7 linked regions of the Homo sapiens genome follow. The protein of the gene in region 6 purifies or fractionates together with the protein of the main gene of each other region. This does not show direct contact. Each region holds a gene or a part of one and is shown on either strand. Other genes may lie near its edges. The genes, in order: NT5DC2, COLGALT1, MAT2B, TXNDC5, POLD3, NSUN2 and PNO1.

Evidence for each region.
Region 1: the proteins of NSUN2 (region 6) and NT5DC2 fractionate together in Homo sapiens (co-fractionation; one large-scale study listed by BioGRID). This does not show direct contact.
Region 2: the proteins of NSUN2 (region 6) and COLGALT1 fractionate together in Homo sapiens (co-fractionation; one large-scale study listed by BioGRID). This does not show direct contact.
Region 3: the proteins of NSUN2 (region 6) and MAT2B fractionate together in Homo sapiens (co-fractionation; one large-scale study listed by BioGRID). This does not show direct contact.
Region 4: the proteins of NSUN2 (region 6) and TXNDC5 fractionate together in Homo sapiens (co-fractionation; one large-scale study listed by BioGRID). This does not show direct contact.
Region 5: the proteins of NSUN2 (region 6) and POLD3 purify together in Homo sapiens (tandem affinity purification; one large-scale study listed by IntAct). This does not show direct contact.
Region 7: the proteins of NSUN2 (region 6) and PNO1 fractionate together in Homo sapiens (co-fractionation; one large-scale study listed by BioGRID). This does not show direct contact.

The regions. Positions count from the first base shown.
Region 1 is NC_000003.12:52,523,592-52,527,483, forward strand, and holds the end of NT5DC2 (5'-nucleotidase domain-containing protein 2), read right to left. Parts: intron 3,785-3,892; coding exon 3,703-3,784; intron 1,705-3,702; coding exon 1,618-1,704; intron 1,513-1,617; coding exon 1,372-1,512; intron 1,291-1,371; coding exon 1,226-1,290; intron 1,141-1,225; coding exon 879-1,140; 3' UTR 796-878; downstream 1-795. Other genes in the region: STAB1 (stabilin-1), read left to right, coding at 1-165, 280-426, 509-622, 709-765. UniProt on the Homo sapiens protein: Promotes dephosphorylation of tyrosine 3-monooxygenase TH which decreases TH catalytic activity and leads to reduced synthesis of catecholamines including dopamine, noradrenaline and adrenaline.
Region 2 is NC_000019.10:17,558,420-17,562,325, forward strand, and holds part of COLGALT1 (procollagen galactosyltransferase 1 precursor), read left to right. Parts: intron 1-891; coding exon 892-1,002; intron 1,003-1,928; coding exon 1,929-2,046; intron 2,047-3,906. UniProt on the Homo sapiens protein: Beta-galactosyltransferase that transfers beta-galactose to hydroxylysine residues of type I collagen. By acting on collagen glycosylation, facilitates the formation of collagen triple helix. Also involved in the biosynthesis of collagen type IV.
Region 3 is NC_000005.10:163,515,492-163,520,133, forward strand, and holds the end of MAT2B (methionine adenosyltransferase 2 subunit beta), read left to right. Parts: intron 1-1,026; coding exon 1,027-1,220; intron 1,221-2,069; coding exon 2,070-2,183; intron 2,184-2,701; coding exon 2,702-2,872; 3' UTR 2,873-3,863; downstream 3,864-4,642.
Region 4 is NC_000006.12:7,886,492-7,890,397, forward strand, and holds part of TXNDC5 (thioredoxin domain-containing protein 5 isoform 1 precursor), read right to left. Parts: intron 3,091-3,906; coding exon 3,004-3,090; intron 2,358-3,003; coding exon 2,214-2,357; intron 1-2,213. UniProt on the Homo sapiens protein: Protein disulfide isomerase of the endoplasmic reticulum lumen involved in the formation of disulfide bonds in proteins. Can reduce insulin disulfide bonds.
Region 5 is NC_000011.10:74,595,422-74,599,327, forward strand, and holds part of POLD3 (DNA polymerase delta subunit 3), read left to right. Parts: intron 1-3,906. UniProt on the Homo sapiens protein: Accessory component of both the DNA polymerase delta complex and the DNA polymerase zeta complex.
Region 6 is NC_000005.10:6,615,822-6,619,727, reverse strand, and holds part of NSUN2 (RNA cytosine C(5)-methyltransferase NSUN2), read left to right. Parts: intron 1-1,703; coding exon 1,704-1,778; intron 1,779-2,870; coding exon 2,871-3,001; intron 3,002-3,906. UniProt on the Homo sapiens protein: RNA cytosine C(5)-methyltransferase that methylates cytosine to 5-methylcytosine (m5C) in various RNAs, such as tRNAs, mRNAs and some long non-coding RNAs (lncRNAs).
Region 7 is NC_000002.12:68,164,185-68,168,090, forward strand, and holds part of PNO1 (RNA-binding protein PNO1), read left to right. Parts: intron 1-753; coding exon of another isoform or gene 754-775; exon of another isoform or gene 776-1,690; intron 1,691-3,906. UniProt on the Homo sapiens protein: Part of the small subunit (SSU) processome, first precursor of the small eukaryotic ribosomal subunit.

The sequences.
Region 1 (3,892 bases), on a different chromosome or scaffold from region 6:
GTCCCACCCTGTTGGCCCTGGCCCTCGCTCACAGTGGGCCTGACTCTGGTCTCCCTGCAGGCCCCAGGGACAGTTGTGGTTAGCCGTATCATTGTGTGGGACATCATGGCCTTCAATGGCATCATCCATGCTCTGGCCAGCCCCCTCCTGGCACCCCCACAGCCCGTGAGTTGAGGAAGGGGGAGGCAGAGCCCTTCCTGGCACCCCCACAACCTGTGAGCCCGGGGAAGGTGGTGGGACAGCTCCCGCCAGGTCAACACTCTCCCTGTTTGTTTGTAGCAGGCAGTGCTGGCGCCTGAAGCCCCACCTGTGGCGGCAGGCGTGGGGGCTGTGCTTGCCGCTGGAGCACTGCTTGGCTTGGTGGCCGGAGCTCTCTACCTCCGTGCCCGAGGCAAGCCCATGGGCTTTGGCTTCTCTGCCTTCCAGGTAGGGCTGGGTTGGGGCTGCCATGGCGGGTCCTTGGATCTCGCTTGAGGCGCCTCGCCACTCACCCCTCTGCTGCTCCCAGGCGGAAGATGATGCTGATGACGACTTCTCACCGTGGCAAGAAGGGACCAACCCCACCCTGGTCTCTGTCCCCAACCCTGTCTTTGGCAGCGACACCTTTTGTGAACCCTTCGATGTAAGCATGGAAGTGAAGAAGTGTGGCAGATGTGGGATGGGCCCAGGCCCTGGTCACACCCTCCACCACCAACCCTGCTCTTCTAGGACTCACTGCTGGAGGAGGACTTCCCTGACACCCAGAGGATCCTCACAGTCAAGTGACGAGGCTGGGGCTGAAAGCAGAAGCATGCACAGGGAGGAGACCACTTTTATTGCTTGTCTGGGTGGATGGGGCAGGAGGGGCTGAGGGCCTGTCCCAGACAATAAAGGTGCCCTCAGCGGATGTGGGCCATGTCACCAAGGAAGGGGGTCTTCATGCAGCCGGTGCAGAGCTGGTCCATCCAGAGGGGTGCCTCGTGCTGCAGCGGCGTACGGCGTGGGTAGAAGGTGAAGTCCACGCGGTAGTTGAGCAGGCAGCTGAGGGAGGCCATGTAGAGGTCAGAGAAGCGCACGAGGCGCCTTGAGAAGTAGGTGGGGTTGTGGAAGGTGCGGAAGATGCTGCCGAACTGCGCATTGAACAGGGCCTTGGTGATGCACCTGGCGAGGGAGACACGATGCGCTCAAGGGGTGGGCCTGGGGTGGTGGCTTGGCTGGGACTCCTGCCCTGGCCCCACCTGCTCACCTCAGCTCCTGCCGCTCTTTCATCCAGGCAGCCAGCACCTGCCTCGACTCCGCGTCCTGATAGGTCTGGGGACACAAAGTGTGCATTGGGTGTGTGCACCCAGGAGGCTACCGCCCTGGCCCTCCCACAGCCACCCCGGCCCACACCTGCATGCGCTCCAGCAGCCCCGTGAGCGCCTGCTGCCACGTCAGCGAGTGCATGTACTGCTCCGTGTTGATGATGCGGATCTCACGCTCCAGCTCGGGGATGATGGCGCCTGTGCGCCAGCCGTGCCGCAGCATGAGATCCTGGTGGGTGGGGCGGCAGAACTGGGCTCAGCGCCAGTTGCTGGGGGCGGGGGGGGGGGGGTTTCCTGGCCCTCCCCCACTGCAGCCCAGCCCTGCCTCCCTCACCGCCAGATCACTATAGAGGTGGTCCCCGAAGTAGAGCACGCGGGGGCCACGCCATTCCGTCAAGCGTAAGAAGTCAAACAGGTTTCCCTAGGGAGAGGAGGGGAATGCTGCTGAGCCAAGTGTGCCTTGTCCTCCACCAGTCCTCCCTCCCGAATCCCCAGAGGCAGCCCAAATCCAGCCGGATGCTGGCTGCCCTTTCCCATGGCCTTGCTGCTCCCTCCCTGGGCCCTGGTTCTTGTCACTTTCCCCTCCTACTTGGGAAGGGGATTCTGCCTGCTGCAGGAAGGTGCCCTACAGGCCTGGCATGGTGCCCATGCCTCGAGGGCCTTCTCCCTGTGGTCTCACACGTACCCCAGGTTAGGGATTAGATCCCTGTTTGTAAGGTAGAAACTGCAGGGAAGGCTCTGCAGCCCTGAAGTCCTTGCTGGCCTCCCCTGCCTCAGTGCAGAGGGACCTGGCAGACCAATGGCAGACCTCACCGGGGCCACCAGCATCTTGGAGCCAGAGAAAGATGGAGACACTCAGCCAGGCCCACATGTAACTGGGGAAGCTCACAGGGTGGCAGAAACTGAGCGGCCCAGAGCAGGAATCACCAGACTAGTGCTCAGGCAGCAGCCACCAGGGTAGGAGTCCACACCCCAAAAGCGAGAATAATTGACACCCAGCAAGCACAGTTCTTGAAGCAGTCTGTGCATTCCAAGCCTCAGAAGTGGAAGCGCTGGGGGAAACAGGTGGTGTGGGAGAAGCCAATTGCTGAACTAAGTTCAAGTGGAGGGGCAGAGGCCCAGGCAGGCCCCAGACCAAGAGAAAGAGTCTCAAAGGGCAGGAGACTGACAGACTCCTAGTGACTGACAGGCAGGATCCAACACACAGTGGAAAGCAGCTTCAGAATACTGGGCATAAAGAACTGCCTGAAAGCTGCCAGGGAAGAAAGTCATGTGTTTCTCACAAAGGTGTATGACCCTCTTTAGCTGAGGCTGGATGCCAAGGCAGGGGAGAGCAGCGCCCTCAGAGCTGAAGGGACGCACCTGGGCCCGAGGGCTGTGGAGAGTTTGGGTGCGGAAGGGTGGGAGGCAGAGAAGTGGGCAGGGCTGAGAGGGTGGGGGTGTTTCCTGCAGGCCAGGCTGGGCATTGGCCACCTCCACATTGCTCCCCTGGCCAGCTGCTGGCTTCCCCCTCCTCCAGCCCCAAGGCCTTTAGAACCCCTAGCCTGAAGAAGCCCAGCTCAGCCAGGATTTCCGCATTCCAGCCAGGGCTAAACCTTAATCACTGCCTGCTCATAGACACCTAATCCCACCTCAACACCAGTCCCTCTCATTTTCCTAGCCAGGTAGGAAGGAGGAGTTTCTCTAGATCACCCAGTGAGCTGCCCCCAACCAGACTTGTTCTGGCTGCAGCAGAGTGCTCAACCCCAAGAAATGACACCATTCATCAGGCATTTCACGATCTCTGACCATTCTTGTTTTTTGAAGACAGGGTCTTGCATTGTTGCCCAGGCTAAAGTGCAGTGGTGTGATCACAGCTCACCACAGCCTCGAACTCCTGGGCTCAAGTGATCCTCCCACCTCAGCCTCTGGAGTAGCTGGGACCACAGGTGCATGCTACCATGCCCCGCTAATTTTTTCTATTTTTAGTAGAGATGGGGTTTCGCCATGTTGGCCAGGCTGGTCTCAAACTCCTGAGCTCAACAAACTATCCTGCAGCCTCAGCCTCCCAAACTGCTGGGATTATAGGCATGAGCCACGGTGCCTGGCGCACTGGCCATTCTGAGAGCTTTATACCACAGCTTCAGTAGAGAGTATTACACCTCTTTTGCAGACAAGGGAAGCAAGGCACAGAGGTCAGGCAACCAGGCCAGGCTCCCTCTGCTGAGTAGTGGAGTTAGGAATTCAAAGCCAGGCTGCTTGACCCAGAGGTCAAGCTCTCGAGGCCACCCAGACCTGCTCCCTGCCAGCCATTGCCTGTGTGAGGCTGCTCAGGGCCAAGGAGCTGTGCTGCTTCTTCAGAGGCTGCCTCTGCACAGCCTGGGGCCCTAGCTAGGCCCCATGCCCCCACCACATGCTGCTCTCCCCAGATGGCCCTTACCTGCCGATAGATCTTGCCCTTTTCCAAGCGGGTGATCCGGTCCCACTGAAGTGAGCCCTTCTCATCGAGTTTTCTGAAAGGCCTGGGGTGCAGGTAAAGGGCATGACTTCCAGTCTGTGGCTGGGCCACGGGCCGGGCAACCCCCATCCCTCCTCCGTAAAGGCCCACCTGCTCAAGTGGACCCATGCCA
Region 2 (3,906 bases), on a different chromosome or scaffold from region 6:
GTCATCCCAGCACTTTGGGAGGCTGAGGCAGGTGGATCACCTGAGGTCAGGAGTTCGAGAGCAGCCTGGCCAACATGGCGAAACCCCATCTCTACTAAAAATGCAAAAATTAGCTGGGCATGGTGGTGGGCACCTGTAATCCCAGCTACTCGGGAGGCTGAGGCAGGAGAATTGCTTGGACCTGGTAGGCGGAGATTGCAGTGAACCAAGATTGTGCCACTGCACTCTAGCCTGGGTGACAGAGCAAGACTCTGTCTCAAAAGAAAAAAAAAATTAAGTGACACATATTTGTTAGTGAATGTGGTTTGCAAGATCTTAGATGCTCAGTAATAAAACAGCCAATCACTAATGGGTCTTTCCAAAATCAGCTTGTTTAATCCTTCCACTTCCCAGTAAACTGGGTCCTGTTCCCACCCCCATGTTACAGATGAGGAAACTGACATGGAAAGGGAGAAATGGGCCGGGCGCGGTGGCTCACGCTTGTTAAGTCCAGCACTTTGGGAGGCCAAGGTGGGCGGATCACGAGGTCAGGAGATCGAGACCAGCCTGGCCAACATGGTGAAACCCCGTCTCTACTAAAAATACAAAAAAATTAGCCGGGTGTGGTGGCGGGCGCCTGTAGTCCCAGCTACTTGGGAGGCTGAGACAGGAGAAGGCGTGAACCCGGGAGGCGGAGCTTGCAGTGAGCCGAGATCGCGCCACTGCACTCCAGCCTGGGCAACAGAGCGAGACTCTGTCTCAAAAAAAAACAAAGGAAAGGGAGAAGTGTCCTGTCCAGGGATACATAGCTGGTGGGAGGCCAGTTGGGGATGGTGGTCCTTGACTTGCCTCACTGCTGCCTGGTCCTGCCTCAGTCTCCCCAAGTACGCTGCCTGTCCCCTCTCCCTGCAGGGTGGCTACGGACCACAACATGGATAACACGTCAACTGTGCTGCGGGAGTGGCTGGTGGCCGTGAAGAGTTTGTACCATTCCGTGGAGTGGCGGCCAGCAGAGGAGCCCAGGTGAGCATCTTTCCCCTGCTCCTAGTCTGATTGGGCTTTGCCTCTGCTCACACACCCTCTATGGCTCCCCATTGCCCCAGAACAATTACAGGCCCTCAGTCCCTGCCTCCAGCCCAGCCAGGCAGCATTAAGCTACTCTGAGCCTCCCTCAGCTTTACAAATAGGCCATAATCCTCTTCTCAGACCTTTGCCCAAGCCGTTCCCTGTACCTAGAATTCTTTCACTCCCTTTTTCTTCTGGGGACGCCCACTGCTTTGTTCCCTGGCTCACTGACTCAGTCTTGGTCCCAGCACTGGCTTTGCTGTTTATCTACTCCCTAAAGCCCTGGGCAGCATGGACTCCCTGCCCCCACCCAGTTCCTTTCTGGGTTTTTGTTTTTTTTTTGAGACAGGGTCTCACTCCCTCACCCAGGCTGGAGTGCAGTGGAGTGAACACAGCTTACTGCAGCCTTTAACTCCTGGGCTCAAGCCATCCTCCCGCCTCAGCCTCCTGAGTAGCTGGGACTACAGGCACATGTAACCATGCCTAGCTAATGTTTTTGTATTTTTTGTAGAGATAGGGTCTCACTGTGTTGCCCAGGCTGGTCTCAAAGTGCTGGCCTCAAGCGATCCTCCCACCTCTGCCTCCCAAAGTGCTGGGATCGCAGGCGTGGGCCACTGCACTGGACCCCACTGAGCTTCCTTCCTTCCTTCCCTCCAGTGTGCCTCGGGCTTTCTTCCCTCCAGGCCTTTGCACAGGCTGTACCTCCGGCCAGGAACATTCTCCCCACTTCTCTTTCCTCGTCGTTTACTTTTTCCCATCCCTCAGATCAGCTTACACGTCCCCTCCTCCAGGAAGCTCTCTCTGAGTACCCCGAAGGCAGCTCAGGCCCTCGCTGGGCTTTGATAGTGCCTTGTGATGTCCACATCACAGCTGCCTCCCCATAGGTCCTACCCGGACGAGGAAGGCCCGAAACACTGGTCTGACTCACGCTACGAGCATGTCATGAAGTTGCGCCAGGCAGCCCTGAAATCAGCTCGAGACATGTGGGCTGATTACATCCTGGTAAGTTTCTCAGCCGGCCGGATATGGATCACAGGCAGGTCTGGGTATCCCCAGGGAAGGCGGAGCAGCAGGATGCCAGGACCATCCTTAATGTTGTTTTGCAGAAGGGTAAACTGAGGCTTAGAGAGGGGAGATGAGTTGCTTGAGGTGATATGGTTGGTCAGTGGAGGAGGAGCTGGGATTCATTTGATCCTCAGCACTAGGAATGAATGGGCTTTTCTGTCCCCAGTTGTCCCCTGTGTTTGGACACTTGGGTCAAGTCCATTTTTATTTTTTTATTTTTTTGAGACAGAGACTCACTCTGGTGCCCAGGCTGGAGTGAAGTGCCGCAATATCGGCTCACTGCAACCTCTGCCTCCTGGGTTCAAGCGATTCCCGTGCCACAGCCTCCTGAGTAGCTGGGACCACAGGCACCCACCACCACGCCCGGCTAATTTTTTATTTTTATTTTTGTGGAAGCCAGGCATGGTGGCTCATGCCTATAATCCCAGCACTTTAGGAGGCCAAGGCGGGTGGATCACTTGAGGTCAGGAGGTCGAGACCAGCCTGGTCAATATGGTGAGACTCCATCTCTACTAAAAATACAAAAATTAGCCGGGCGTGGTGGCAGGTGCCTGTAATCCCGGCTACCTGGGAGGCTGAGGCAGGAGGATTTCTTGAACCTAGGAGGCAGAGGTTGCAGTGAGCCGAGATCGTGCCACTGCACTCCAGTCACTGGGCGACACAGTGAGACTCCATCTCATAAATAAATACATAAATAAATATTTTTAAAAAATAACAAATAAAAAATATTTTTGTAGAGACGGGGTCTTGCTATGTTGCCCAGGCTGGTCTCCAACCCCTGGGCTCAAGTGATCTTCCTGCCTCGGCCTCCCAAAGTGCTGGGATTACAGGCATGGGCCACCGTGCCTGGCCGTGTCACGTCTGTTTTTATCACCATCATATGTAATGGCCAAACCTTTGGGTCACTTCCAAGAAGCAGGAGGAAGGGGTCAGGGGCTGGGGGGTGGTGGCCACATTGAATTGCTGAGGCCTGACTTGCACTTCCTCCTCCTGTGGGGACATTGTCTCATGGGGAAGGGAACAGTTGAGTCTTTTTATTTTTTTCTCGAGCCAAGATCACGCCACTGCACTCCAACCTGGGCCACAGTATGAGACTCTGTCTCAAAAAAAAAAAAAAAAAAAAAAAAACAGACTTATAGGTTGAATATTACTATTATTTTTTAATTTGTATAAACTTATGGAGCACAAGTGTAATTCTGTTACATGCATAGATTGTGAAGTGGTGAAGTCAGAGATTTTGGGGCGTCCATCCCCTAAATAATATACATTGAACCCATTACACAGTTTTCTATGATCAACCCCAAATGTTATTTCAGCCTTCATACTTTTCTATATTCTCCTGATTTTCTTTTTTCTTGTTTTTTGAGACAGAGTCTCTGTTGCCCAGGTTGGAGTGCAGTGGCACAATCTCGGCTCACTGCAGCCTCCTCCTCCTGGGTTCAAGCAATTCTTCTGCCTCAGCCTCCTGGGTAGCTGGGATTACAGGCCCCCGCCATCATGCCTGGCTAATTTTTGTAATTTTAGTAGAGACGGGGTTTCGCCATGTTGGCCAGGCTGGTCTCTAAAGTCCTGACCTCAGGTGATCCAGCTGCCTCGGCCTCCCAAAGTGCTGGGATTATAGGTGTGAGCCACCACATCCAGCCCATCTCTTAAAACAAACAAACAAAAAGCAGAAAAGAAAAAGCAAAGAGTCAAGTGAGCAAAGTGATTACGATGCAGTGGTGGCTAGAGGTCCAACTACACAGGCCAGTGGAGGCACTTGGTGTCTACTTGGAGGGGAATGGGGAGCCATGGAGG
Region 3 (4,642 bases), about 160 Mb from region 6:
TCACATAATTACAGTGCAGTTATCATACATTTGGAAACTTAACATTAATATGGTACTGTAATCAAATACAAATCTATTTAGGAATTTTCTCATTTATGCCAAAAATGTCCTTTATTGCTTTTATTTTTTAATCTAGCATCCAGTCAAAGACTATTCATTGCATTCAGTTGTCATGATAAGTTTTATTTTTAATGATCATATTAATGTAGGATTTATATATATAAAAAAAACTAGTCCAAATGACAGAAGATACTTAACAAATGTGGTTTTGCCTTTTTCTTTTTTTTTTTTTTTTTTTTTTTTTTGAGACAGGGTCTCAGTCGCCTGGGCTGGAGTGCAGTAGGGTGAACACAGCTCACTATAGCCTTGACCTCCTTGGCTTAAGCAATCCTCCCACCACGAACGGCTAATTTTTTTACATTTTGTAGAGACGAGGTCTCACTGTGTTGTCCACGCTGGTCTCGAACTCCTGGGCTCAAGTAGTCCTCCTGCCTTGGACTCCCAAGTGCTGGAATTACAGTCATGAGCCCCACCGCACTCAGCCTTTGACTGTTTTTAATTTTATTTTTGAGGCAGGGTCTCACTCTGTTGCCCAGGCTGGAGTACAGTGGTGCAGTCATAGCTCATTGCAACCTTGAACTTCAGGCTCAAGAGATCCTTTTGCCTTACTCAGCCTCCCAAGTAGCTGGGACTACAGGCATGTGCCACCATGCCCAGCTAATTTTCATTTTAATTTTTTGTAGAGACGGAGTTTTGCTATGATGCCCGGGCTGATCTTGAACTCCTGGCTTCAAGTGATCCTTCTGCCTTGGCCTCCCAAAGTGCTAGCATTATAGGCATGAGTCACTGTGCCTGGCCTTGAATATTTTTACATTGCGTTGTCACAAGTGAGCTGTGTCATTTTGGTATATTTTAATTAAAAGGCAAGGTTTCTACTTTGATATTATTTAAATCCACACCCTTGTATCTTACATCAAAATTTAAGAATCAGTCAGCTTTAAATTATTTGCTTTTATTCTTCTCTAGGAGCTGCTGTTTTGAGGATTCCTATTCTGTATGGGGAAGTTGAAAAGCTCGAAGAAAGTGCTGTGACTGTTATGTTTGATAAAGTGCAGTTCAGCAACAAGTCAGCAAACATGGATCACTGGCAGCAGAGGTTCCCCACACATGTCAAAGATGTGGCCACTGTGTGCCGGCAGCTAGCAGAGAAGAGAATGCTGGTAAGAAGGATTCCTGAGTCCTGTCTTAGCGAAGGTCCGCTTTGTCTTTTCCATGCTTGAACTTTCACAGCTGTACTTGGAGTGTTACTGAGTGAAAGCCAAAAGTGCTTTTTTAAAACTAGGAGACCAAACAAAAGTAGTTTACATATACACTGTATTCATGAAGAATAAAAATATTATGCTCTTCTGTTTGAATTTATTTCTTATGTACTATAGATCCCATCATTTCTTTTATTGCAAAGTGTTAGGAAACTTCAAAATAATCATCTAAGGTCTTTTAAGAAGATACTCTTTGGGGGCTGGGCGTGATGGCTCACACCTGTAATCCCAGCACATTTGAAAAAGTTGGTATTAAATATAATATCCATACAAAGAAAGATGAGACTGATTTAGTTTAGAATATTAATAGGATGACCACAGTTTTTTAATATATGAGAATTATATTTTGTAATATATAACATGACAATATTTAAGAAAGTTTAGCTCAACTTGAAAAATGGTTCTATTAAGTTTTTGTTGTAGCTTGGGATAATTAAAAATACTCATTAAATTGTACTGTTTTCATAAAAATTTGTAATGCTTTTTTATATTCCCACTAATTAAGTAAAATTGGAGCCTTTTTTTGATTTTAAAAATTCTTAAGGTTTAAATTCTAGAAATTGCTCTTTTAAGTGTTTTGCTAAGAGTATTAGTAGGAATTTGATTTTAGATATCTTGTGGAGACCTTTCCAGAAAAAGAGGGTTGCCTTTTAGTTCCTGGACCTTATTTTAAGTAAGCTTTTTGGTCAAACCTATTCTACTCAGCTCAAAAAGTTGAAACTATTGAATTTATTGTGTCATCGTTCTTAGGATCCATCAATTAAGGGAACCTTTCACTGGTCTGGCAATGAACAGATGACTAAGTATGAAATGGCATGTGCAATTGCAGATGCCTTCAACCTCCCCAGCAGTCACTTAAGACCTGTAAGTACATGGCTGTAAAAACCTTTAGATCCATTGCTATGGTATATATTATTGCTGTGTTGGGTAACTTCATTTCTCAGTACTAATCAAAGTGAACTTTGCTTGTATGCTGGCTGTTCATAGTGCTACTTTTCTCTAAATTATCATCTGTAGAGAAGATCATGAGTATTGAAGTTTGTAGAAAATGTATTATTGTCTTGATCATGACAGGCATTTGGTTTATTTTTCCAGGGATGATCAAATCAGATTTCTTACACTAAGAGCAAAAATAAGTAGCAAATATAAAACCTCAAAATGGCCAGGCACAATGGCTCATGCCTGTAATCCCAACACTTTGGGAGGCTGACGCAGGAGGATCCCTTGAGCCCAGGAATTTGAGACTAGCCTGGGCAATGGAGGGAGATCTCATCTCTGTTTAAAAATATATACATATTTAAAAAAAGGTCAGGGGGAACAAAGCCCTCAAAATATAGCCTTTCACTTACTTTTGATTTTTTTGTGTTTATCTTTCTTTAAAGATTACTGACAGCCCTGTCCTAGGAGCACAACGTCCGAGAAATGCTCAGCTTGACTGCTCCAAATTGGAGACCTTGGGCATTGGCCAACGAACACCATTTCGAATTGGAATCAAAGAATCACTTTGGCCTTTCCTCATTGACAAGAGATGGAGACAAACGGTCTTTCATTAGTTTATTTGTGTTGGGTTCTTTTTTTTTTTTAAATGAAAAGTATAGTATGTGGCACTTTTTAAAGAACAAAGGAAATAGTTTTGTATGAGTACTTTAATTGTGACTCTTAGGATCTTTCAGGTAAATGATGCTCTTGCACTAGTGAAATTGTCTAAAGAAACTAAAGGGCAGTCATGCCCTGTTTGCAGTAATTTTTCTTTTTATCATTTTGTTTGTCCTGGCTAAACTTGGAGTTTGAGTATAGTAAATTATGATCCTTAAATATTTGAGAGTCAGGATGAAGCAGATCTGCTGTAGACTTTTCAGATGAAATTGTTCATTCTCGTAACCTCCATATTTTCAGGATTTTTGAAGCTGTTGACCTTTTCATGTTGATTATTTTAAATTGTGTGAAATAGTATAAAAATCATTGGTGTTCATTATTTGCTTTGCCTGAGCTCAGATCAAAATGTTTGAAGAAAGGAACTTTATTTTTGCAAGTTACGTACAGTTTTTATGCTTGAGATATTTCAACATGTTATGTATATTGGAACTTCTACAGCTTGATGCCTCCTGCTTTTATAGCAGTTTATGGGGAGCACTTGAAAGAGCGTGTGTACATGTATTTTTTTTCTAGGCAAACATTGAATGCAAACGTGTATTTTTTTAATATAAATATATAACTGTCCTTTTCATCCCATGTTGCCGCTAAGTGATATTTCATATGTGTGGTTATACTCATAATAATGGGCCTTGTAAGTCTTTTCACCATTCATGAATAATAATAAATATGTACTGCTGGCATGTAATGCTTAGTTTTCTTGTATTTACTTCTTTTTTTAAATGTAAGGACCAAACTTCTAAACTAATTGTTCTTTTGTTGCTTTAATTTTTAAAAATTACATTCTTCTGATGTAACATGTGATACATACAAAAGAATATAGTTTAATATGTATTGAAATAAAACACAATAAAATTAACACTTGATCCAGAATGTTAACTTACCACCCCATCCTAGAATGTTACAGTTACTGTATCTATTTGTGGGAACGGATTTGTTTTTAACTAAAAATTAATAGCTATATAATCTTGTTACATTATACAGTTGACCCTTGAACGGTGTGGGTTTGGGGTATCAACCTTGCACAGTCTAAAATCCACTATAACTCTGGACTCCCCAAATACTTAATTAGTAAAAACCTGCTGTTGACCAGAAGCCTTACTGATAAACATAGTCATTTAACATATTTCTATCTTCTGTGTATTACATACTGTATTCTTAAAGTAGCCTAGAGAAAAGAAAATATTATTAAGAAAATCTCAAGGAAGGGAAAATATATTTACTATTCATTAAGTGGAAGTAGATTATCATAAAGTTTTTTTTTTTTTTTTTTAGACAAGGTCTCGCTCTGTCGCATAGGCTGGGGTACAGTGGTGCATTCTCAGCTCACTGCAACCTCCGCCTCCTGGGTTCAAGCAATTCTCCTCCCTCAGCCACTCGAGTAGCTGGGATTACAGGCACCCGCCACCACGCCCAGCTGAGTTTTGTATTTTTAGTAGAAATGAGGTTTTGTCATGTTGGCTAGGCTGGTCTCAAACTCCTGCCCTCAAGCAGTCCACCCTCCTCGGCCTCCCAAAGTGCTGGCACTACAGGCGTGAGCCACTGCACCTGGCCTGGATCATAATCAAGTTCTTTATTCTTATCTTCATGTTGAGTAGGCTGAGGAAATTAACTGGGGAAATTTTACTGATACCTGAGTCCTACCCTGGGCTTACTGAAATAAATTTTGG
Region 4 (3,906 bases), on a different chromosome or scaffold from region 6:
CTATTCTCCTAGCACCCTTTGTGACATCCTCTCTATGCAACAGAAAGAACCTAGTTACAATAGCAAAGGCAATGATACCTGTTTTACATTGAACATAAAAATGGAAAGCAGCCTGTTCTAAGTCAATGTGAAAAACGCTGATGGAAGCTCTGGCTGGAGAATTTAAGGGAAAGGTGCTACATGGTAGTCTGCTTTAAAGCCATTCTCCCTTGACAGTTCTTTACAGAATGACGTCTATGTGTTTCTCCAAAAATGGATCTGCGATTCTCTCCTGAGAGCAGGAATGGGATGATTTATCACGTGGCTAAGTGTACCAGGGCTGCTCCATTTGAGTCTGGCATCGAGTAACATGTCAGTGACGGAGGCCAAGGGGGCCACTGTGGAACACTACCATCTTTATGTCCAGAAACATGACGCCACACGCACTGAAAAGACCCACTTCATGGTGGAAAACTGCATTATAAATAGAAATGGTGCTGCGATGAAAACATCCGTGGTATATAATTATACTCAATTTGGGATGACCTTTGTAACCACCATGACACATACACTCCTCTAACATAAGTGGTCCTGACAACTACAAAATCAGCTGTTTACTTCTTCAACCAAAACGTCAACTTTTAAACAACACTCAGGCCATCCCCGACCTACAAGAGCCCAACTAGGGACAGGGTTGTAGGGGTGAGGAGGCCTGGTGTGGCCCCACCAGGGAGGAGGGGTTGGTGGCCCCACTGGTTTTTCCAAATCCAAACTCCTGGCCTTCAGGCATGACTTCTACCTGAAGAGGATGACACGGGCACTCTCGTCCAGTGCAGACCTCCTGCCGCAGCCCCAGGCTCATGGTTGGAACTGCCACTGGACACTGCCACCTACACAGCCGAAAGCCTTGAAGATCAACACCTTGAAAACCAAGCTCATCCCTTTCCTCGAGCTCTGGCCCCGCCCCTGTGCTGGGTACCATCCTCCACCAGATATGCGGGAATCAGACTCGCCTCGGACCCTCCCTCCCTCTCCGCGCTGCACAGCGGCTGGACTCCTTATGCTGGCTTTCTCCTCCTCGCCATCGCACAGTCACGGCTGCAGCATGAGGGAACGCATCATCTTTAAAGGCCTAATAGAGCAGCTTCCCACCTCCAGCACACGTGCATGCCGGTCATTTTCCTACAACTCCAATCTGCACAGAGCCTCCATGGGCTCCCTGTCAATATGGGATACAGTTCCTAATCCTTGGCCAGCTGCCCACAGACTCTCAACTCCAGCTCCTCTCTCACTCTCAGGGATCCTACACCACACCCTGACCTGTCTCCCACTGTGTTCCCCCAGCCCCAGCTCTGGCCCTGCAGAAATGCCGGCTGATTCTCGGGTTGTGCCTCTCCTGGTGCAGCCCCTCAGTGGCAGCCCTGCCCAGCCTATCTGTCCAGCACAGATCCCGTCAATCAGCTCCTTAGGGACACTTCTTGCCCATTTGCCCCCACTTCTCTCTAGCAGCCAAGCCCTGCACACATTTCTGCCCCAGCCCCCTGCCATTGGCTTGTGTGTCTTCTCACCATTTGCCTCAGAGACCTGTATGCTTCAGAGGCAGGAAACCGGTCTTATTTTTATTCCCTGGTGGCCTAGAACAGTGCCTGTGACATAACAAGGGCTTCATAAAGCAGAACAAATGAATCTGAAACCTCCTGCTACCTGAGTGAAGGAAGGAAGCCCCTCAGTGCATCAGGACTGCCTAGGCAGGTTACAGCTACAGTCACTGGCCTGATCGCTGCGGATGCCCTCTTGGCTACAGGTCTTCTAGGGGCCTTTACAACGGGTAAAGGAAAATGCCCGGAGCAAGGTCAGGAATAGAATCAGGGCCCCGGGGCCAGCAGTCGAGATTTCATAGCAGAAACATGCCCAGCAGAGTCATTCTTTAAAATGAATGAAGCGGAAAGGAAGGATTCTCTAGAGATTTTTGACACCAAATATTGTCTTGGGATTTGTCTCACATCCATTTCATGTTTTCAAAAGGAAAGCTTTTGTTTGCATTCGCCCCTGAAAGCATGTGAAAGTCGATGAAAAATACGTGTTGAAAACGCAACTGGAGCCAACCATCAGATGACTGTGTCCCCAAACTGTCATTTTGTCCAAAGCATTTGAGGAGGCCTCTGAGGGTGGGGAGGTGGGGGGCCGGGGGCCACGGGCCACTTATGGGGATCCCGACTCCAGCAGGCACCCACCTTGTCAGCCTCGGGCTCAGCTGCCAGCACCGGGGCCTCTGAGGGCGTGACGGTCTCCGTCGCTCCAGTCTCTGTGCGCTGCAGCTGCGACTCCACGTACTCCCTCAGTGACTCCAAATCCCGCTTTCCCTTGTACTGATCCACCTGGCCAAGACACGGGCACGCGGCTGAGTGAGTCCACTGAGGTGTTCTGAATCACTTAAGCCTTCCTGCAACCCCTGCTTGCCCGGGTCAGAGCTCCCAGATGTCTTAGCGGTGGTGCAAAGTCTGCATGTTCATATTTAGACGGGAATGTAGAGAGGATAACTGAATGCCTCGGCTTTGGTGAGAGAACTGTACAGGCCCCTCTTCCCTCCACGGGGTTACACATCACAGAAGTCTGGGGCAGAGGCCTGCCAGCAAGCCGTTGTGCTGATGGGGAACTCTGAGCTGCTGACCATCGGCCAGGGAAGGAGGGAGGGAGGCAGGCAGAACCGGACCAAGTGCAAGCCTTAGCTCTGTTCAAAGGCCTGAAGGTTTGTGTTTACAACCAGAGCACAGTTACCCTGTGACTGTAAGATGTGGGTTATTCTAGTGATAACCTGGGCCACTGAAATGTTTCAAGGTTCATCTCCACAACCCAAATCTTATCAATTAAGAGAAAGACGTTTGTTTCATTATACACATTTCTCCAAACCAGTGCCCTAACAATCAAGATTGGCAATTCACTGTGCCCATTAAACCACTCAGTAGCTCAGCCTGATGGGGTTAAGAGATGAAGAATTCTCAGTACTAAGAAGTGCAGACGTACCTTTTTCCCATCTCGGAACCAGAGAAGAGTGGGATAGCCACGAACCTGGTTTCCGGAGCAGAGTTCATAGTGCTGTGTACAATCAACCTGAGAATAAAAGCAGATCAACTTCCCAGTCAGTTTCTTCATGAACCTTCTTGCTAATGGGGCTACTGGACACTTTGTACGTTACAAATATTCTTTTCAAAATCCACATTCTGTAGCAACTCTGCCAGCAAGGTGCAGTTTTTGAAGAGAATGTTCCTGAAAGCTATGCTAAAACATACCTGAGCTAAAAGGAGTAAAGGAAAGACTTTAGAGGCAAGATTTATTGTATTAATAGCTCAGTTAAACATGCCGGTTTTTAGGAAGCAACATTTTAACTCGAGCAAGTAAAGTCAGCACCTGGTAGCTTGAGTCAGGGCCCTGGCTTGACATTTGGTGGTGGTGGGAGGGGGGTTAGCCTGGCTGTCGGTGACTGGGACCCAGACCAGTTCACATGCCAGCTTAGAATTTACTCTCATGCTGAAGCTTAGAGGGTTTTAAAATCAACAGGGAGCAAGAAGTGAATTTTAAACAGGAGTAGTTGGTATATAATAAAGGTAAGACTGCAAAGATGTCAAGATTATAATCCGTCCTTAATTTTATAAACTTAATTTACCAACAAGCACAGCTCTTCAAGCTTTTTCTTTCATTTAAATCTCATAAAGCTGCTGCTTGCCCAACATTTTCATGAAACATCTTGTTCTAAGTCATTGCTTTCTTTTTTATTTTCTACCAGCACTAAAATAGGCAGGACTAAGTTGTTATTCACTATGTCAGCAAACGGGGGTAAAAATACTATTTCAACACCTAAGACCCGTCAGAGAGCAGCTAAGGTGCGGAACTGAAGTACAAGAGGCCTCAGCCCAAGGTCGGGAGAGG
Region 5 (3,906 bases), on a different chromosome or scaffold from region 6:
TCTTTGGAGAAATAGATATTCAAAATTATGCCCATTTTTGTCATTGGGTATTTTTGGTTGTTGTTGAGTTTTAAGAGTTCTTTATATATTCTGAATACAAGACCCTGATTGAAAAATTATTTGCAAAAATTTTCTCCCATTCTGTGGATTGTCTTTGTACTTTCTTGATGGTGTGCTTTGAAGCACAGACATTTTTTGTTGTTGTTGTTGTTTGAGACAGGATGTCACTCTGTTGCCCAAGCTGGAGTGCAGTGGTGTGATCTCAGCCCACTGCAGCCTTGACTTCCCTGGGCTCAGGTGATTTTCCCACCTCAGCCTCCCGAGTAGCCGGGACTACAGGTGCGTGCCACCACACTCAGCTAATTTTTAAATTTTTTGTAGAGATGGAGTCCCGCCATGTTTCCCATGCTGGTCCCAGGCTGGTCTTGAATTCCCAGGCTCAAGCCCCTGCCTTGGCCTCCCAAAGTGCTGGGATTACAGACATAAGCCACCATGCCTGGCCCATGGAAGTTTTTATTGCTGATGAAGTCCAATTTATTTATTTTTCCTTTTGTTGCTTATGCTTTTTTAAGTTTAAATTTTAAAATGATTAAATTTTTTTTAATCTTATTTTTTTTTTTTTTTTAGTAGAGATGAGATCTTGCTATGTTGCCCAGGCTGGTCTCAAACTCCTGACCTCAAGTGATCCTCCCACCTTGGCCTCCCAAAATGCTGGGATTACAGATACAAGCCACTGTGCCCGGCCTAAGAAGATTTTTTTTTTTCTTTTTTTTTTTTTTGAGGCAGAAGCCTTGCTCTGTCGCCCAGGCTGGAGTCCAACGGCGTGATCTCGGCTCACTGCAACCTCCGCCTCCCTGGTTCAAGCTATTCTACTGCCTCAACCTCCGAGGTAGCTGGGACTACAGGCATGTGCCACCATACCCGGCTAATTTTATTGTATTTTTAGTAGAGTTGGGGTTTCACCATGCTGGCCAGGCTGGTCTCGAACTCCTGACCTCAAGTGATCTGCCCGCCTCGGCCTTCTAAAGTGCTGGGATTACAGATGTGAGCCATCGTGCCAAGCCAAGATTTTTTAAATTGAGAAATAAAGTTGTATGTATTTATTGTGTACAACATTATGTTTTGAAGTATATATACACTGTGGAGTAGTTAAATCTAGCTAATAAATGTATTACATCACACAGTTATTTTGGTGGTGAAAACATTTAATGTCTACCATCTTTTCATTTTTCAAGAATATATCATCACTAACTGTAGTCACCATGCTATACAGTAGAGCTCTTGAACTTATTCCTGTCTAACTGTAATTATGTATCCTTTAGACCCACATCTCCCCATTCCCCCTCCCCTAACCACTTCAGCCTATGGAAAGAAAATTCTGCTTTCCACTTCCGTGAGATCACCTTTTACAGATTCCACAAATGAGTGAGATCATGTAGTATTTGTCTGTGTCTGGCTTATTTCAGTTAACATAGTCTCTTCCAGGTTCATCCATTTTGTTGCAAATGATAGGATTTTATTCATTTTTATGGCTGAATAGTATTCCATTGTGTATATACACTATATTTCCTTTATCCATTAATGGACATTTATTGATTCCATATCTTGGCTGTTGTAAATAGTGCTGCAATAAACATGTGAGTGCAAATATCTCTGACATACTGATTTCATTTCCTTTGGATGTATATCCGTAGTGGGACTGCTGGATCATACAGTAGCTCTATTTTTGATATTTTGAGGAACCTCCATACCGTTTTACATAATGGCTGTATTAATTTACATTCCCACCAACAATGTATAAGCATTCTGTTTTCTCCATACCCTTGTTGTGTTTTCTTTTTGATGTGTTGCTTGTGCTTCTGACATAATATCTAAGAAGGCTTTGCCTAACCCAGGGTTATGAAGATTTACTCCTGTGCTTTTTTCTAAGATTTTTTAGTTTTTGCACTTATATTTAATTCTGTAATCCACTTAGAGTTTAAAAAAATCATGGTTATCACTATGTTTAAGTTTTCTACAGATCGTGTGCTTGTTAGCATCATTATTATTATTGTTTTGAGACAGGGTTTCACCCTGTTGCCCAGATGGAAATGCAGTGGCGCAATTTTGGCTCACTGCAACTTCAGCCTCCCAGGCTCAAGTGATTCTCCCTCCTCAGCCTCCCGACTAGCTGGAACTACAGGCGCATGCCACCACACTTGGTTACTTTTTGTATTTTTTGTAGAGACGGGGTTTTGCTGTGTTGTGCAGGCTGGTCTCGAACTCCCAGGCTGAAGCCATCCTCCTGCCTTGTCCTCCAAAGTGCTGGGATTGCAGGCATAAGCCACTGCACCTGGCCATGTACTTGTTAACATTAGAAATGCTTCAGTCGGGTGGCTGTGGTGGCTCAGTTGTATTAGTCCCAACACTTGAGGAGGCTGAGGTAGGAGGATTGCTTGAGCCCAGGAGTTCAAGACAAGCCTGGGCAACATAGTGAGACCCACATCTTTATAAAAAGTTTTTTTAAAACATGAGCCTGGTGTGGTGGCATGCACCTGCAGTCTTAGCTACTCAGAAGGCTGAGGCAGGAGAATTGTCTGAGCCCGGGAGTTCAAGGCTGCAGTGAGCTATGATCACACCTGGGTGACAGAGCAAGAACCTATCTCTAAAAGAGAAAGAGAGGAGAGAGAAAAAAGGGAGGAAAGAAAGAAAAAGAAAAAAATGCTTTAGTTCCTACAGTAAGACTATACTAAAGCTTTCAGATTAGGTGTTAGTTCAAGCTAATTTTTAAATGAATCACTGAAATGTATAAATATTGACTATATCTTCTAGGAATCACTTGGAGTTGATTTTTTGTGTATGGTGTAAGGAAAGGGTCCAGCATCATTTTTTTGCACATGGGTATACGGTTATCCCAGCATTTTATAATTCATATTATTGTCTTGGCATTTTCTTGCTAATTATATGTCTTTCCCCACTAGAATATAAACTCTATGAAGGCAGGAAACTTGTCAGGTTCATCACTGTTCTGATTACTATTGCTGTGTCAGAAATCACCCCAAAATGTAGTGCCTGGAAACATCATTTTATTATGCGCATAGATTCTTTTGCTTTGGAATTTGGATAGGGCACAGTGGGAATGGCTTATGTCTGTTCCATGATGTCTGGCATCCCCGCTGGAAAGTCTCAATAACTGGAACCTGGTCATCTCTAGGCATCTTTATGCACATGTCTGGCTGTTGATTCTGGCCATCTGTTGGGCCTTTAGCTGGGGCAGTGGACTAGAGTGCTTGCATGTGGTCTATCTGTATGGCCTGGGCTTTCTCACAGCCTGGTGTCTCCAGGTAGTCGGACTTCTTACATAGAAGCTCAGGGCTCCAAAAGCTTGTGTTCCAGCACAATGTAGAGCCAATTGCCTTTTCTGACTAGCCTCAGAAGTCAAGCAGTGAATAACTGGTCATACCAGATTCAAGAAGTGGGCTCTACTTCTCAATGAGAGAATGTAGAAGAGCATATGGAATGGAAGATGCTGTCTCAGCCATCTTTGGAAAATATAACATGCCACAATTATTCTGTCTTCAGTGTCAGGCACATAATGAATGCCAATACATACTGAATGAATACCAAGCACTATGGTTTATGTTTGTTTTGAGATAGAGTCTCACTGTATCACCCAGGCTGGAGTGCAGTAGTTCAAACATGGCTTCCTTTAGCCATGACCTCCTAGGCTTAAGGGATACTCCCACCTCAGTCTCCTGAGAGTAGCTGGGACCACAGGTACATGCCACCATGCTAGCTGATTTTTTTATTTCGTAGAGTTGGGATCTTGCTGTGTTGACCAGGCTGGTCTTGAACGTCTGGACTCAAGCAGTCCTCCTGCCTCAGCCTCCCAAAGTGCTGAGATTATAGGCATGAGCCACCATGCTC
Region 6 (3,906 bases):
GTATATAAAAAACTTTGTCATAAAATAATACGTAATCACATTGGATTTTATGTTATTTAGTTGAATGAAAGAAATTTCGGAGTTCAAGCCCTTAAGAAATTCATTTTGCTTGTGTTTTTATACCTTTCTTGAGATAATACATCAACATTTTAGATATTTAGAGTTTAGATATAAAATAATACTCATGGTATAACTGAGTAACAAGTTTTTTTAAAAGGAAAGAAACAAAACTAAAGACATCATCTGTTCCGTTCCCATAGGAGGTGCACGGATGATGATCCCAGGTGATAATGACTTCTGAATGACATAAGTTTGTCAAGACCAGAATTCAAAAGCTGCCACAAAACTTGTTAGCACAGAATGCAAGCTTTAGATACGATACCACATTATGGAAGAATGCCATTTTGTTTCAGTAAGTGGCAGAGTTACTGCTCATGGCAAAACTCAGTATGAAACTTGCAGCTGGTGGCTCTGAATATAGCTGAGTGTTAAAATAATCTGGAAAAAGCCCTCTTTAAAGTAAAATTTAAAATACATCATGAACTAAAGTTTTTTTTTCCTCTAGGTTGCAATTTTTCAGTATTCCTTGGGGTCTCATGTTTTCCTACCCCTGTTTTTTGATCAGAAAGATAACTCGTTCCTTGTATCATATTCTGAGATCTGAGAACGCAGTGACCTTATGAGCAAGAGGTTGCAAGCTGGGGAAATTTCTGAAATTGTGGTGGGATTTCTACCATGCAAACAACTAGTGTACAGCCAGGAATGCCATTGCAAAGTGGGGATTACATCTCATGGGATAATTCCATCCTGCAGACCTAGTCCCTCGTGTACACGCGGCTAGACCATCAAGGAAAATCAGCATTTACAGAGAAAGCCAACAAAAACAGGCGTTACCTTCTGGGAAAACAGGGCAGATAAAATTAGACACAGAAAGTAACAAATCCAGTCTTTACTATAAAATATACATGGAAAGAGCTTCCATTAACAAAAACATGAAAATAACTTCCATTAAATAAAAGTAGAAAGTCAGAAATTTAACGGTGATTGTAAGAAAAATTTAGCTATTAGTAAGAAAAATTTAGCTATTATATTAGCTTAATTGAAATTACTATGGAAAATTTATTAGTCATTATTCATATAATTCTGATTAAAATGCCATTGTTGATTAACTGAGTTTTTCAATAGTATTTTAGGTTCTGAAAAACATGAAAATAACTTCCATTAAATAAAAGTAGAAAGTCAGAAATGTTTACCTGTGATTGTAGGAAAAATTTAGCTAATATATTAGCTTAACTGTGGAAAATTTCTTATTAGTCATTATTCATGTAATTCTGATTAAAGTGTCATTGTTGATTAACTGAGATTTTCAATAGTATTTTAGGTTCTGTGTCCTAGGTCTGCAAATTAGTCTTGCTAGTGTTTTTTCCAAATGGAAGCACATTAATATCTCCTTAGTGAATGGAGTTTACTGTTCAAATCCATTATTTTCTGCTTGAAAATTGAAGTATAATTTAAAACTATAATACATTAGAAAATCCCTAAAACAAAAGCTGAAAGCAGATTGCAGTTGGTGAAAATGGAGATTGTTTCCTAACTGATATTTGTAACACTTGTTTTGTAACTTAGCTTGTATGTGACATATCTGTTAAAGTGCAGTCATCCACCTGTAGGGAGCTTTGCACTCATAAATATCTTTTTTCCAGTGGAGACGGCACTATGAGAAAAAACATTGATGTTTGGAAAAAGTGGACCACCTTAAATAGCTTGCAGCTACATGGGTAAGTAAAACTTCATCACTGCTAACACTGTGTGACAAGTAGATCAGCAGAGATTTATTGTTATGCAAGTGAGCATCCGATCTTTAATTAGAGAGCTGTAAGCATCAGAGGATGGTCAATGGCCACCTTCAACTGTTTTATCAGAAGTTATTTGAAAACCTTTCAAGAGCAATAACTGCAAATTGTATACATTTCAGATAACACGTTTATTAAAAATGCCTTCTATAAAAATTTCTTGCAACACTTCAGATATGTATTTTTCCATGAAATGACCGTTTACCTCTTGATGTATGCATTACTAATCTTTTCTCTCTGTTTTTGTTCTTTTGTATCATCGTTTTGCTAAGAGACATTTTGATCTCTTAGAAATATTTTTCGGTTGGCTTTTTATGATGGGGAACTATTCATTAAAGAACAATTGGAAAATTCTTAAAGAGAAATCTCATAACACGATGATCACGTCTGTTAATGTTTGGTGTGTTGTATTGTTTTTCTGTTTACAGGGATTTTTTAAGTACTTTTTCCAAATACTTTTGATCATGCTGTCTGTAGAGCAGTGTATTCTTTTTTTCATTTGACATGACAAATGCCATGGTCTTGCATGCAGGACTGTACTGTGCCTGAGCCACAGAATACTAATTAGCATCCACCACAACCAACTATAGCAGGAGGCCTCGTCTCCATAAAATACTGTCTACTGTTTTGTGACACAGAGACAAGAGTTAGGACTGGAATGTATGATACCAATTTTTCATAGAAAAACCACATATTTAGGAAGTATGGAGGTTTTTTAAATAGTGAAATTTCATCTAATACATTGAATTCTGTTGTTACTGAACTTTATACTCTGCTGGTTGACATATTGGGAAAGGTTAACAGAGCAGTAAGAATATTTATATAATACATTTTTTTTATTAACATGAAACACTTTATATAAGTTTACTCTAACTTCATTTAGATCCCTGGAAGGTTTTTTTTAAGTATAATTGTGTTATAAAAGCTTGTAATGAATATGTGACATAAGGAGGTGCTTCTAATATGTGCACTTCATGGATACATTTGGCCTTGCAGTCATCTGATATCTCCCCTTAGCTTACAGCTGCGGATTGCAACACGCGGGGCTGAACAGCTGGCTGAAGGTGGAAGGATGGTGTATTCCACGTGTTCACTAAACCCTATTGAGGATGAAGCAGTCATAGCATCTTTACTGGAAAAAAGTGAAGGTAAGCACGCTTGATGGATCTTTTATTAACAGCATAGGGGGCTTTTCATATGTGTATGGTACAATACACATAACGTGAGGTTTACCATCTTAATCATTTTTGAGCCTGCAGTTCAGTCCCGTTAGGTATATTCCCATTGTTAATCACCACCACCATCCATCTCCAGAAATCTTCACCTTGCAAAACTGAAACTCTGAACTCCTTTAAACAGTAGCTCCCATCTCTCTCTTCCCTGCCCCTCACACCACCGTTCTATTTTTTGTCTGTATGACTTTGACTACTCTAGACCTCACAGAAGCGGAATCATACTGTATTTGTCTTTTCGTGACTGGCTTATTTAACTTACTGCAGCGTCCTTGAGGCTCACTTGTGTTGTTGTCTGTGTCAAAATTGCATTGCTTATTAAGGCTGAACACTATTCTGTTGTTTATATAAACCGCATTTTGTTTACCCATCCATCTGTTGATGGACATCTGGGTTTCTTCCACTTTTTGGCTGTTGTGAGCCATGCTGCTGTGAGCATGGTATACAAATACCTCTCCAAGATCCTGGTTACGATTCTTTGGATATACACTCAGAAGTTGAATGGCTGGATCATATGATCATATAGTAATTCTGTGTTTAATTTTGGGGGGACCCCACCATGCTTTTTTTCACAGTGGCTGCGTCATTTTGTATTTCTACCCCCAGTGCACAAGGGTTCCAATTTCTCTACACATTCAGGGACACTTATTATCTGGGGCTCTTTGTTGTTAGTAGCCATCCTAATGGGTGTGAGGTCACCTCATACAGTTTTATACTGAGGAACTGACAGATAGTACAGAATATTCTGAAACAGTAGTGTATTTCTACAGTGTATTGATATAAAATATTTCTCCTTTTATGTTTTGCCAGAATGTTAACTT
Region 7 (3,906 bases), on a different chromosome or scaffold from region 6:
ATGCACACCACATTTAAAAATATGGCCAAGCATGGTGGCTCACATCTGTAATCCCAGCACTTTGGAAGGCTGAGGCAGGTGGATGGCGTGATCTCAGGAGTCTGAGACTAGCCTGGGCAACATAGTGAAACCCCTTCTCTACAAAAAAATACAAAAATTAGCCGGGTGTGGCGGCCCACACCTGTAGTCCCAGCTACTTGGGAGGCCGAAGTGGGAGGATCACCTGAGCCCAGAAGGTTGAAGCTGCAGGGAACCACGATCGTGCCACTGTACTCAACCCTGGGCGACAGAGTGAGACTCTAACAAAATAAAAATAAAAATACCACATATAGTCTGGGCGCAGTGGATCATGCCCATAATCCCAGCACTTTGGGAGGCCAAGGTGGGAGGAAGGAATGCTTGAGCCCTGAAGTTCAAGACCAGCCTGGGCAACATAGGGATCTCCATCTCTACAAAAAATATAAAAATTAGGTGTGATTGTGCACACCTGTAGCCCTAGCTGCTCAGGAGGCTCAGGTGGGAGGATTGCTTGAACCAAGGATGTCAAGACCACAGTGAACCATGATGGCACCACTGCACTCTAGCCTGGGTGACAGAGTGAAACCTTGTATCCAAAAAATAAAAAATTAATTAATTTAAAATCCATATACAGATGCTCCTCACCGTATGGTGGGGTTACGTCCAGATAAACCTGTTGTAAATTAATGATCTCATAAGTCAGAAGTTCATTTGATACTTCATTTGATATCATAGGATACTTCTCTTTGAAAACTGAAGAGCATTCCGAGTGTGTACCACTTTGGCGCAATTATAAAGTCAAAAAAAAATCTTCGGTTAAATCATCAAGTCATGGACTGGCTGAGTAGCCCTGAAAGCTTTCATGAATTTAGAAATCCATGGCCCGGCACGGTGGCTCACACCTGTAATCCCAGCACTTTGGGAGGCCGAGGCGGGCGGATCACGAGGTCAGGAGATCGAGACCATCCCGGCTAAAACGGTGAAACCCTGTCTCTACTAAAAATACAAAAAATTAGCCGGGCGTAGTGGCGGGCGCCTGTAGTCCCAGCTACTTGGGAGGCTGAGGCAGGAGAATGGCGTGAACCCGGGAGGCGGAGCTTGCAGTGAGCCGAGATCCCGCCACTGCACTCCAGCCTGGGCGACAGAGCGAGACTCCGTCTCAAAAAAAAAAAAAAAACAACAAAAAAAAAAAAACTAGCTGGGTGTGGTGGCACATGCCTGTTATCCCAGTTACTTGGGAGACTGAGGCAGGAGAATTGCTTGAACCTGGGAGGCGGAGACTGCAGTGAGTCAAGATTGCACCACTGCATTCCAGCCTGGGCGACAGAGTGAGACTCCATCTCAAAAAAAAAAAAAAAAAAAACGGCTGGGCATGGTGCCTCACACCTGTAATTTCAGCACTTTGGGAGGCTAAGGCGGGTGGATCACCTGAGGTTAGGAATTCGAAACCAGCCTGGGCGACAGTGAGACTCTGTCTCAAAAAAAAAAAGAATTTAGAAATCTAAAACTAACTGATTTGCCAATGAAATTATATAGTCTGTCATTAAGTTTATTACTGGTAAATTTATAAGTATATTTGTAAGTGTTAACCTAAAATTTACTAGTTAAACCAACGTTTTAGAAGTTTATTGTGGCATAATTTACATACAATAAAATTCTATTGTTTTAAGTATCCCGTTCAATGAGTTTTTGGCAAATGTATATTGTAGTCCCATGACACTCATACAGTTCTCTTACCCTGAAAGTTCCCTCGTGCATCTTTATGGTCAGTTGCCTGCCCCCACCCTTTTCTGGGACAACCATTGCTCTTGTTTCTGTCACTCTTATTTTGCATTTTCTAGAAATTCATATAAATGGAAATACACAGTATGTAGGCTTTGGTGTATGACTTCTCTTAATTAGCATGTTATTTTGGATTTCTCCATTTTGTTGGGTGTATCAGTAGTTCCTTTTTATTGGCAAGTACTATTTCATTGCACAGGTATACTGTTGACCCTTGAATATTGCAGGGATTAGGGATGCTGAACCCCTAACATGGTTGAAAATCCATGTATGTATGACTTGACTCTCCCAAAACTTAACTACTCCTGCTTTTGGCTGGAAGCTATACCAATAACAAACAGTTGATAAACACATATTTTGTATGTTATATGTATTATATACTGTACTCTTTCATAAAGTAAGCTAGAGAAAAAATGTTATTAAGAAAATTATAAGGAAGAGAAAATCTATCTACTCTTCATTAAGTGGAAGTGGGTTATCATAAAGGTCTTCATGGTGAATAAGCTAAGGAAGACGAGGAAGAGGGGTTAATCTTGCTGTCTCATGGGTGGCAGAGGAGGAAGATGTGGAAGGCGAGGCAGGAGAGGCAAGCATACTCTGGAACTTTACAGAAATACATTGTAATTTCTGACTTTTTTGCCCTTTCACTTCTCTAAAAATGTTTCTGTAGGGTACCAATCCTCTTCCACAGTTTTTAGTTTCAGTGCCCACGTCATAAAAGGGTCTATGTCATAAAAGACGTCAAAAGCATCTTGAATAATCAGAAACCTTCTGCCAAATTGTCTAATGTCACCTTGTTTTCTGACACTGCTGCTTCTACATCATCTTCCTCATCACCCGGCACTGCTTCAGAAGCACTCACCTCCATCAAGTCGTCTTCTGTTAATTCCTCTGGCATAGTGTCTGTTAGCTCTTGATTTCTCCGTGATCCATATCTTGAAACCCTTCACCCCTCACTTTTGGCCATATCCACAGTCTCTTTCATGATTTCTTGTTTGGCTCTGTCGTAAATCCTGTACTGTCATGCAAAACCTCTGGACATGGTTTTCTCCAGCAGGAATTTATAGCTGCAGGCATGAGGCTTTCACAGCTTTTTCCATAATAATGACAGTGTCTTCAATGGCATGGTCCTTCCAGACTTTTATGATGTTCTTTCCATCGAGTTCTCTTCCATAGCATTGACACTATTTTCCATAGAGTAGTGTGTGTAATGAACCTTAAAGGTCTTTATGACTACCTGTTCTGGAGGCTGAATTAGAGAGTGGGTGCAAGGAGACCACTTTGTTGCCTTTCGGTATTGAACTCATGGGGTTCTTGGGTGGCTGGGACATTGCTCAACATCAAAAGAGCTTTAAAAGGCATTCCTTACTGGCAAGATACTTCCTGACTTCAGGGAAAAAGCATCAATGGAATCAATCCAGAAAAAGAGCTCTCCTTGTGCAAGCCTTCTTGTACATCCAGAAGACAGGCCACTGGTGTTTACCTTTTCCCTTCAAGGATCGGGGTTAGCAGCTTTATAGATAACGGCAGTCCTGATCATAAACCTGACTGCATTTGCACAAAACAGTAAAGATAGCCTATCCTTTCCTGCATTAAATCCTGGTGTTTGCTTCTCTTCTTTACTAATAATTGCCCTTTGTGACATTTTTTTCCAGAACAGGACGTTTTTCATCTGCACAAAAAACCTGTTCAGGCAGATATTATTTCTCCTCAGTGATTTTCTTAATGGCATCTGGGAACTTGTCTGCTGCCCTTTGGTGAGCAGAAGCTGCTTCTCCTGTTACCCTGACATTTTTAAAGCCACCTCTTTCTAACATTATCGAAGCATCCTTTGCTGGCGTTAAGTTCTCCAGCTTTAGATCCTTCATTTTCCTTTTGCTGTAAGTTGTCATATAATGACTTAATTTTTTTCTCCATCATATTAGACTCTATAGATGTGTCTTTCTTAGAACAATCCTGCACCCACATAAAAGCTGCATTTCCAATTTGAGATTGTCAAGAAAAGAATCACAAGATCTATAAATTTGGAGAGGAAACTTTATTTCTTAGAAAGGGTTGCAGTCTGCAGGGTGGCCATTCTGACAGGCTGGAAAGTATAGCCTTCAG